Linked DNA regions of Homo sapiens: region 2 is linked to region 1. A link means that fine-mapping ties the variant in region 1 to the expression of a gene that starts in the linked region. Tissue or cell type: whole blood. Region 1 holds a variant in brackets; the other region holds the start of a gene. All regions are shown on one strand. Distances are between the middles of the regions. Region 1 has its middle 14 kb from the start of FAM30A. Region 2 holds the start of FAM30A (family with sequence similarity 30 member A).

Region 1 (4,186 bases):
TAAATAAAATTTACACCCTGCAAAATGAACTGTCTTCTTAAGGGATACATTTCCCAGTTAGAAAACCATAAAGAAAACCAAGAAAAGGATGATCACATAAACACAGTGGTGGTTACTTCTGCTGGGGAAGGAAGAGGGTATGAACTGAGATACACAGGGTGGGCAAGTCTCCTAACAAGAACAGAACGAATACATTACAGTACCTTGAAAACAGCAGTTAAACTTCTAAATTGCAAGAAGAGGAAAATGGACACAGTTGTGTTTAGAAAATTCTCAGTCCAGCACTGTTCATAATAGCAAAGACATTAACCCAGGTCGGATAAATAAGCGATGACACAGGCAATTGCACAATGATACAGACATATATTTAGTATATGAGACATCGATGATGTATCCCCAAATAAACGACTTTAAAGAGATAAAGGGCTGATGTGTGGTGGCATTCACCTCCCTGGGATCCCCGGACAGGTTGCAGGCTCACTGTGCAGCAGGGCAGGCGGGTACCTGCTGGCAGTTCCTGGGGCCTGATGTGGAGCAAGCGCAGGGCCATATATCCCGGAGGACGGCACAGTCAGTGAATTCCAGAGAGAAGCAACTCAGCCACACTCCCCAGGCAGAGCCCGAGAGGGACGCCCACGCACAGGGAGGCAGAGCCCAGCACCTCCGCAGCCAGCACCACCTGTGCACGGGCCACCACCTTGCAGGCACAGAGTGGGTGCTGAGAGGAGGGGCAGGGACACCAGGCAGGGTGAGCACCCAGAGAAAACTGCAGACGCCTCACACATCCACCTCAGCCTCCCCTGACCTGGACCTCACTGGCCTGGGCCTCACTTAACCTGGGCTTCACCTGACCTTGGCCTCACCTGACTTGGACCTCGCCTGTCCCAAGCTTTACCTGACCTGGGCCTCAACTCACCTGAACGTCTCCTGACCTGGGTTTAACCTGTCCTGGAACTCACCTGGCCTTGGCTTCCCCTGACCTGGACCTCATCTGGCCTGGGCTTCACCTGGCCTGGGCCTCACCTGACCTGGACCTCATCTGGCCTGGACCTCACCTGGCCTGGACTTCACCTGGCCTGGGCTTCACCTGACCTGGACCTCACCTGGCCTCGGGCCTCACCTGCACCTGCTCCAGGTCTTGCTGGAGCCTGAGTAGCACTGAGGGTGCAGAAGCTCATCCAGGGTTGGGGAATGACTCTAGAAGTCTCCCACATCTGACCTTTCTGGGTGGAGGCAGCTGGTGGCCCTGGGAATATAAAAATCTCCAGAATGATGACTCTGTGATTTGTGGGCAACTTATGAACCCGAAAGGACATGGCCATGGGGTGGGTAGGGACATAGGGACAGATGCCAGCCTGAGGTGGAGCCTCAGGACACAGGTGGGCACGGACACTATCCACATAAGCGAGGGATAGACCCGAGTGTCCCCACAGCAGACCTGAGAGCGCTGGGCCCACAGCCTCCCCTCAGAGCCCTGCTGCCTCCTCCGGTCAGCCCTGGACATCCCAGGTTTCCCCAGGCCTGCCGGTAGGTTTAGAATGAGGTCTGTGTCACTGTGGTATTACGATATTTTGACTGGTTATTATAACCACAGTGTCACAGAGTCCATCAAAAACCCATGCCTGGAAGCTTCCCGCCACAGCCCTCCCCATGGGGCCCTGCTGCCTCCTCAGGTCAGCCCCGGACATCC[C/T]GGGTTTCCCCAGGCTGGGCGGTAGGTTTGGGGTGAGGTCTGTGTCACTGTGGTATTACTATGGTTCGGGGAGTTATTATAACCACAGTGTCACAGAGTCCATCAAAAACCCATCCCTGGGAGCCTCCCGCCACAGCCCTCCCTGCAGGGGACCGGTACGTGCCATGTTAGGATTTTGATCGAGGAGACAGCACCATGGGTATGGTGGCTACCACAGCAGTGCAGCCTGTGACCCAAACCCGCAGGGCAGCAGGCACGATGGACAGGCCCGTGACTGACCACGCTGGGCTCCAGCCTGCCAGCCCTGGAGATCATGAAACAGATGGCCAAGGTCACCCTACAGGTCATCCAGATCTGGCTCCGAGGGGTCTGCATCGCTGCTGCCCTCCCAACGCCAGTCCAAATGGGACAGGGACGGCCTCACAGCACCATCTGCTGCCATCAGGCCAGCGATCCCAGAAGCCCCTCCCTCAAGGCTGGGCCACATGTGTGGACACTGAGAGCCCTCATGTCTGAGTAGGGGCACCAGGAGGGAGGGGCTGGCCCTGTGCACTGTCCCTGCCCCTGTGGTCCCTGGCCTGCCTGGCCCTGACACCTGAGCCTCTCCTGGGTCATTTCCAAGACAGAAGACATTCCTGGGGACAGCCGGAGCTGGGCGTCGCTCATCCTGCCCGGCCGTCCTGAGTCCTGCTCATTTCCAGACCTCACCGGGGAAGCCAACAGAGGACTCGCCTCCCACATTCAGAGACAAAGAACCTTCCAGAAATCCCTGCCTCTCTCCCCAGTGGACACCCTCTTCCAGGACAGTCCTCAGTGGCATCACAGCGGCCTGAGATCCCCAGGACGCAGCACCGCTGTCAATAGGGGCCCCAAATGCCTGGACCAGGGCCTGCGTGGGAAAGGTCTCTGGCCACACTCGGGCTTTTTGTGAAGGGCCCTCCTGCTGTGTGACTACAGTAACTACCATAGTGATGAACCCAGTGGCAAAAACTGGCTGGAAACCCAGGGGCTGTGTGCACGCCTCAGCTTGGAGCTCTCCAGGAGCACAAGAGCCGGGCCCAAGGATTTGTGCCCAGACCCTCAGCCTCTAGGGACACCTGGGCCATCTCAGCCTGGGCTGGTGCCCTGCACACCATCTTCCTCCAAATAGGGGCTTCAGAGGGCTCTGAGGTGACCTCACTCATGACCACAGGTGACCTGGCCCTTCCCTGCCAGCTATACCAGACCCTGTCTTGACAGATGCCCCGATTCCAACAGCCAATTCCTGGGACCCTGAATAGCTGTAGACACCAGCCTCATTCCAGTACCTCCTGCCAATTGCCTGGATTCCCATCCTGGCTGGAATCAAGAAGGCAGCATCCGCCAGGCTCCCAACAGGCAGGACTCCCGCACACCCTCCTCTGAGAGGCCGCTGTGTTCCGCAGGGCCAGGCCCTGGACAGTTCCCCTCACCTGCCACTAGAGAAACACCTGCCATTGTCGTCCCCACCTGGAAAAGACCACTCGTGGAGCCCCCAGCCCCAGGTACAGCTGTAGAGAGAGTCCTCGAGGCCCCTAAGAAGGAGCCATGCCCAGTTCTGCCGGGACCCTCGGCCAGGCCGACAGGAGTGGACGCTGGAGCTGGGCCCACACTGGGCCACATAGGAGCTCACCAGTGAGGGCAGGAGAGCACATGCCGGGGAGCACCCAGCCTCCTGCTGACCAGAGGCCTGCCCCAGAGCCCAGGAGGCTGCAGAGGCCTCTCCAGGGAGACACTGTGCATGTCTGGTACCTAAGCAGCCCCCCACGTCCCCAGTCCTGGGGGCCCCTGGCTCAGCTGTCTGGACCCTCCCTGTTCCCTGGGAAGCTCCTCCTGACAGCCCCGCCTCCAGTTCCAGGTGTGGTTATTGTCAGGCGATGTCAGACTGTGGTGGATATAGTGGCTACGATTACCACAGTGGTGCCGCCCATAGCAGCAACCAGGCCAAGTAGACAGGCCCCTGCTGCGCAGCCCCAGGCATCCACTTCACCTGCTTCTCCTGGGGCTCTCAAGGCTGCTGTCTGTCCTCTGGCCCTCTGTGGGGAGGGTTCCCTCAGTGGGAGGTCTGTGCTCCAGGGCAGGGATGATTGAGATAGAAATCAAAGGCTGGCAGGGAAAGGCAGCTTCCCGCCCTGAGAGGTGCAGGCAGCACCACGGAGCCACGGAGTCACAGAGCCACGGAGCCCCCATTGTGGGCATTTGAGAGTGCTGTGCCCCCGGCAGGCCCAGCCCTGATGGGGAAGCCTGTCCCATCCCACAGCCCGGGTCCCACGGGCAGCGGGCACAGAAGCTGCCAGGTTGTCCTCTATGATCCTCATCCCTCCAGCAGCATCCCCTCCACAGTGGGGAAACTGAGGCTTGGAGCACCACCCGGCCCCCTGGAAATGAGGCTGTGAGCCCAGACAGTGGGCCCAGAGCACTGTGAGTACCCCGGCAGTACCTGGCTGCAGGGATCAGCCAGAGATGCCAAACCCTGAG
Region 2 (4,186 bases), 14 kb before region 1:
GGAAGACAAGACACAGGCCCTCTCCTCACAGTCTCCCCACCTGGCTCCTGCTGGGACCCTCAAGGTGTGAACAGGGAGGATGGTTGTCTGGGTGGCCCCTAGGAGCCCAGATCTTCACTCCACAGACCCCAACCCAAGCACCCCCTTCTGCAGGGCCCAGCTCATCCCCCTCCTCCTCCCTCTGCTCTCCTCTCGTCGCCTCTACGGGAAATCCGGGACTCAGCAGTAACCCTCAGGAAGCAGGGCCCAGGCGCCGTTTAATAGGAGGCTTCCTCACAATGAAACTTTTAGAAAGCCTTGACTACAATGATGACCTTGGTGTGGCTGTGAACACTGTCAGCTCCCACAGCTGCTGCAGCAAAAAATGTCCATAGACAGGGTGGGGGCCCGGGGTCGTCTGCTGTCCTGCTCAGCCCACAGCACGCATGGAGGATCTGAGGTGCCACACCTGACGCCCAGGCCAGAACATGCCTCCCTCCAGGGTGACCTGCCATGTCCTGCATTGCTGGAGGGACAGGGGCAGCCTATGAGGATCTGGGGCCAGGAGATGAATCCTATTAACCCAGAGGAAAACTAACAGGACCCAAGCACCCTCCCCGTTGAAGCTGACCTGCCCAGAGGGGCCTGGGCCCACCCCACACACCGGGGCGGAATGTGTACAGGCCCCGGTCTCTGTGGGTGTTCCGCTAACTGGGGCTCCCAGTGCTCACCCCACAACTAAAGCGAGCCCCAGCCTCCAGAGCCCCCGAAGGAGATGCCGCCCACAAGCCCAGCCCCCATCCAGGAGGCCCCAGAGCTCAGGGCGCCGGGGCAGATTCTGAACAGCCCCGAGTCACGGTGGGTACAACTGGAACGACCACCGTGAGAAAAACTGTGTCCAAAACTCTCTCCTGGCCCCTGCTGGAGGCCGCGCCAGAGAGGGGAGCAGCCGCCCCGAACCTAGGTCCTGCTCAGCTCACACGACCCCCAGCAGCCAGAGCACAGTGGAGTCCCCACTGAACCCCACTGAATGGTGAGGACGGGGACCAGGGCTCCAGGGGGTCATGGAAGGGGCTGGACCCCATCCTACTGCTATGGTCCCAGTGCTCCTGGCCAGAACTGACCCTACCACCGACAAGAGTCCCTCAGGGAAACGGGGGTCACTGGCACCTCCCAGCATCAACCCCAGGCAGCACAGGCATAAACCCCACATCCAGAGCCGACTCCAGGAGCAGAGACACCCCAGTACCCTGGGGGACACCGACCCTGATGACTCCCCACTGGAATCCACCCCAGAGTCCACCAGGACCAAAGACCCCGCCCCGGTCTCTGTCCCTCACTCAGGACCTGCTGCGGGGCGGGCCATGAGACCAGACTCGGGCTTAGGGAACACCACTGTGGCCCCAACCTCGACCAGGCCACAGGCCCTTCCTTCCTGCCCTGCGGCAGCACAGACTTTGGGGTCTGTGCAGAGAGGAATCACAGAGGCCCCAGGCTGAGGTGGTGGGGGTGGAAGACCCCCAGGAGGTGGCCCACTTCCCTTCCTCCCAGCTGGAACCCACCATGACCTTCTTAAGATAGGGGTGTCATCCGAGGCAGGTCCTCCATGGAGCTCCCTTCAGGCTCCTCCCTGGTCCTCACTAGGCCTCAGTCCCGGCTGTGGGAATGCAGCCACCACAGGCACACCAGGCAGCCCAGACCCAGCCAGCCTGCAGTGCCCAAGCCCACATTCTGGAGCAGAGCAGGCTGTGTCTGGGAGAGTCTGGGCTCCCCACCGCCCCCCGCACACCCCACCCACCCCTGTCCAGGCCCTATGCAGGAGGGTCAGAGCCCCCCATGGGGTATGGACTTAGGGTCTCACTCACGCGGCTCCCCTCCTGGGTGAAGGGGTCTCATGCCCAGATCCCCACAGCAGAGCTGGTCAAAGGTGGAGGCAGTGGCCCCAGGGCCACCCTGACCTGGACCCTCAGGCTCCTCTAGCCCTGGCTGCCCTGCTGTCCCTGGGAGGCCTGGACTCCACCAGACCACAGGTCCAGGGCACCGCCCATAGGTGCTGCCCACACTCAGTTCACAGGAAGAAGATAAGCTCCAGACCCCCAAGACTGGGACCTGCCTTCCTGCCACCGCTTGTAGCTCCAGACCTCCGTGCCTCCCCCGACCACTTACACACGGGCCAGGGAGCTGTTCCACAAAGATCAACCCCAAACCGGGACCGCCTGGCACTCGGGCCGCTGCCACTTCCCTCTCCATTTGCTCCCAGCACCTCTGTGCTCCCTCCCTCCTCCCTCCTTCAGGGGAACAGCCTGTGCAGCCCCTCCCTGCACCCCACACCCTGGGGAGGCCCAACCCTGCCTCCAGCCCTTTCTCCCCCGCTGCTCTTCCTGCCCATCCAGACAACCCTGGGGTCCCATCCCTGCAGCCTACACCCTGGTCTCCACCCAGACCCCTGTCTCTCCCTCCAGACACCCCTCCCAGGCCAACCCTGCACATGCAGGCCCTCCCCTTTTCTGCTGCCAGAGCCTCAGTTTCTACCCTCTGTGCCTACCCCCTGCCTCCTCCTGCCCACAACTCGAGCTCTTCCTCTCCTGGGGCCCCTGAGCCATGGCACTGACCGTGCACTCCCACCCCCACACTGCCCATGCCCTCACCTTCCTCCTGGACACTCTGACCCTGCTCCCCTCTTGGACCCAGCCCTGGTATTTCCAGGACAAAGGCTCACCCAAGTCTTCCCCATGCAGGCCCTTGCCCTCACTGCCCGGTTACACGGCAGCCTCCTGTGCACAGAAGCAGGGAGCTCAGCCCTTCCACAGGCAGAAGGCACTGAAAGAAATCGGCCTCCAGCACCCTGATGCACGTCCGCCTGTGTCTCTCACTGCCCGCACCTGCAGGGAGGCTCGGCACTCCCTGTAAAGACGAGGGATCCAGGCAGCAACATCATGGGAGAATGCAGGGCTCCCAGACAGCCCAGCCCTCTCGCAGGCCTCTCCTGGGAAGAGACCTGCAGCCACCACTGAACAGCCACGGAGCCCGCTGGATAGTAACTGAGTCAGTGACCGACCTGGAGGGCAGGGGAGCAGTGAACCGGAGCCCAGACCATAGGGACAGAGACCAGCCGCTGACATCCCGAGCCCCTCACTGGCGGCCCCAGAACACCGCGTGGAAACAGAACAGACCCACATTCCCACCTGGAACAGGGCAGACACTGCTGAGCCCCCAGCACCAGCCCTGAGAAACACCAGGCAACGGCATCAGAGGGGGCTCCTGAGAAAGAAAGGAGGGGAGGTCTCCTTCACCAGCAAGTACTTCCCTTGACCAAAAACAGGGTCCACGCAACTCCCCCAGGACAAAGGAGGAGCCCCCTGTACAGCACTGGGCTCAGAGTCCTCTCCAACACACCCTGAGTTTCAGACAAAAACCCCCTGGAAATCATAGTATCAGCAGGAGAACTAGCCAGAGACAGCAAGAGGGGACTCAGTGACTCCCGCGGGGACAGGAGGATTTTGTGGGGGCTCGTGTCACTGTGAGGATATTGTAGTAGTACCAGCTGCTATGCCCACAGTGACACAGCCCCATTCCCAAAGCCCTGCTGTAAACGCTTCCACTTCTGGAGCTGAGGGGCTGGGGGGAGCGTCTGGGAAGTAGGGCCTAGGGGTGGCCATCAATGCCCAAAACGCACCAGACTCCCCCCCAGACATCACCCCACTGGCCAGTGAGCAGAGTAAACAGAAAATGAGAAGCAGCTGGGAAGCTTGCACAGGCCCCAAGGAAAGAGCTTTGGCGGGTGTGCAAGAGGGGATGCGGGCAGAGCCTGAGCAGGGCCTTTTGCTGTTTCTGCTTTCCTGTGCAGATAGTTCCATAAACTGGTGTTCAAGATCGATGGCTGGGAGTGAGCCCAGGAGGACAGTGTGGGAAGGGCACAGGGAAGGAGAAGCAGCCGCTATCCTACACTGTCATCTTTCAAGAGTTTGCCCTGTGCCCACAATGCTGCATCATGGGATGCTTAACAGCTGATGTAGACACAGCTAAAGAGAGAATCAGTGAAATGGATTTGCAGCACAGATCTGAATAAATTCTCCAGAATGTGGAGCCACACAGAAGCAAGCACAAGGAAAGTGCCTGATGCAAGGGCAAAGTACAGTGTGTACCTTCAGGCTGGGCACAGACACTCTGAAAAGCCTTGGCAGGAACTCCCTGCAACAAAGCAGAG

The links.
Region 2: FAM30A starts here. The variant in region 1 is fine-mapped to the expression of FAM30A in whole blood (TOPMed, PIP above 0.99). The same link has a PIP of 0.9 or more in blood mononuclear cells and lung.

What each region holds. Positions count from the first base shown.
Region 1 is chr14:105,902,084-105,906,269 of GRCh38, reverse strand. It overlaps IGH, IGHD5-12, IGHD4-11, IGHD3-10 and IGHD3-9. Among named protein-coding and RNA genes, the nearest start is that of FAM30A, 14 kb to the left of the region's middle. The variant C/T (reference allele first, on the strand shown) is at 1,691.
Region 2 is chr14:105,916,173-105,920,358 of GRCh38, reverse strand. FAM30A (family with sequence similarity 30 member A) reads right to left here and starts at 2,380. Exons shown (of 6, transcript NR_026800.2): 1 at 1,542-2,380. It also overlaps IGH, IGHD2-2 and IGHD1-1.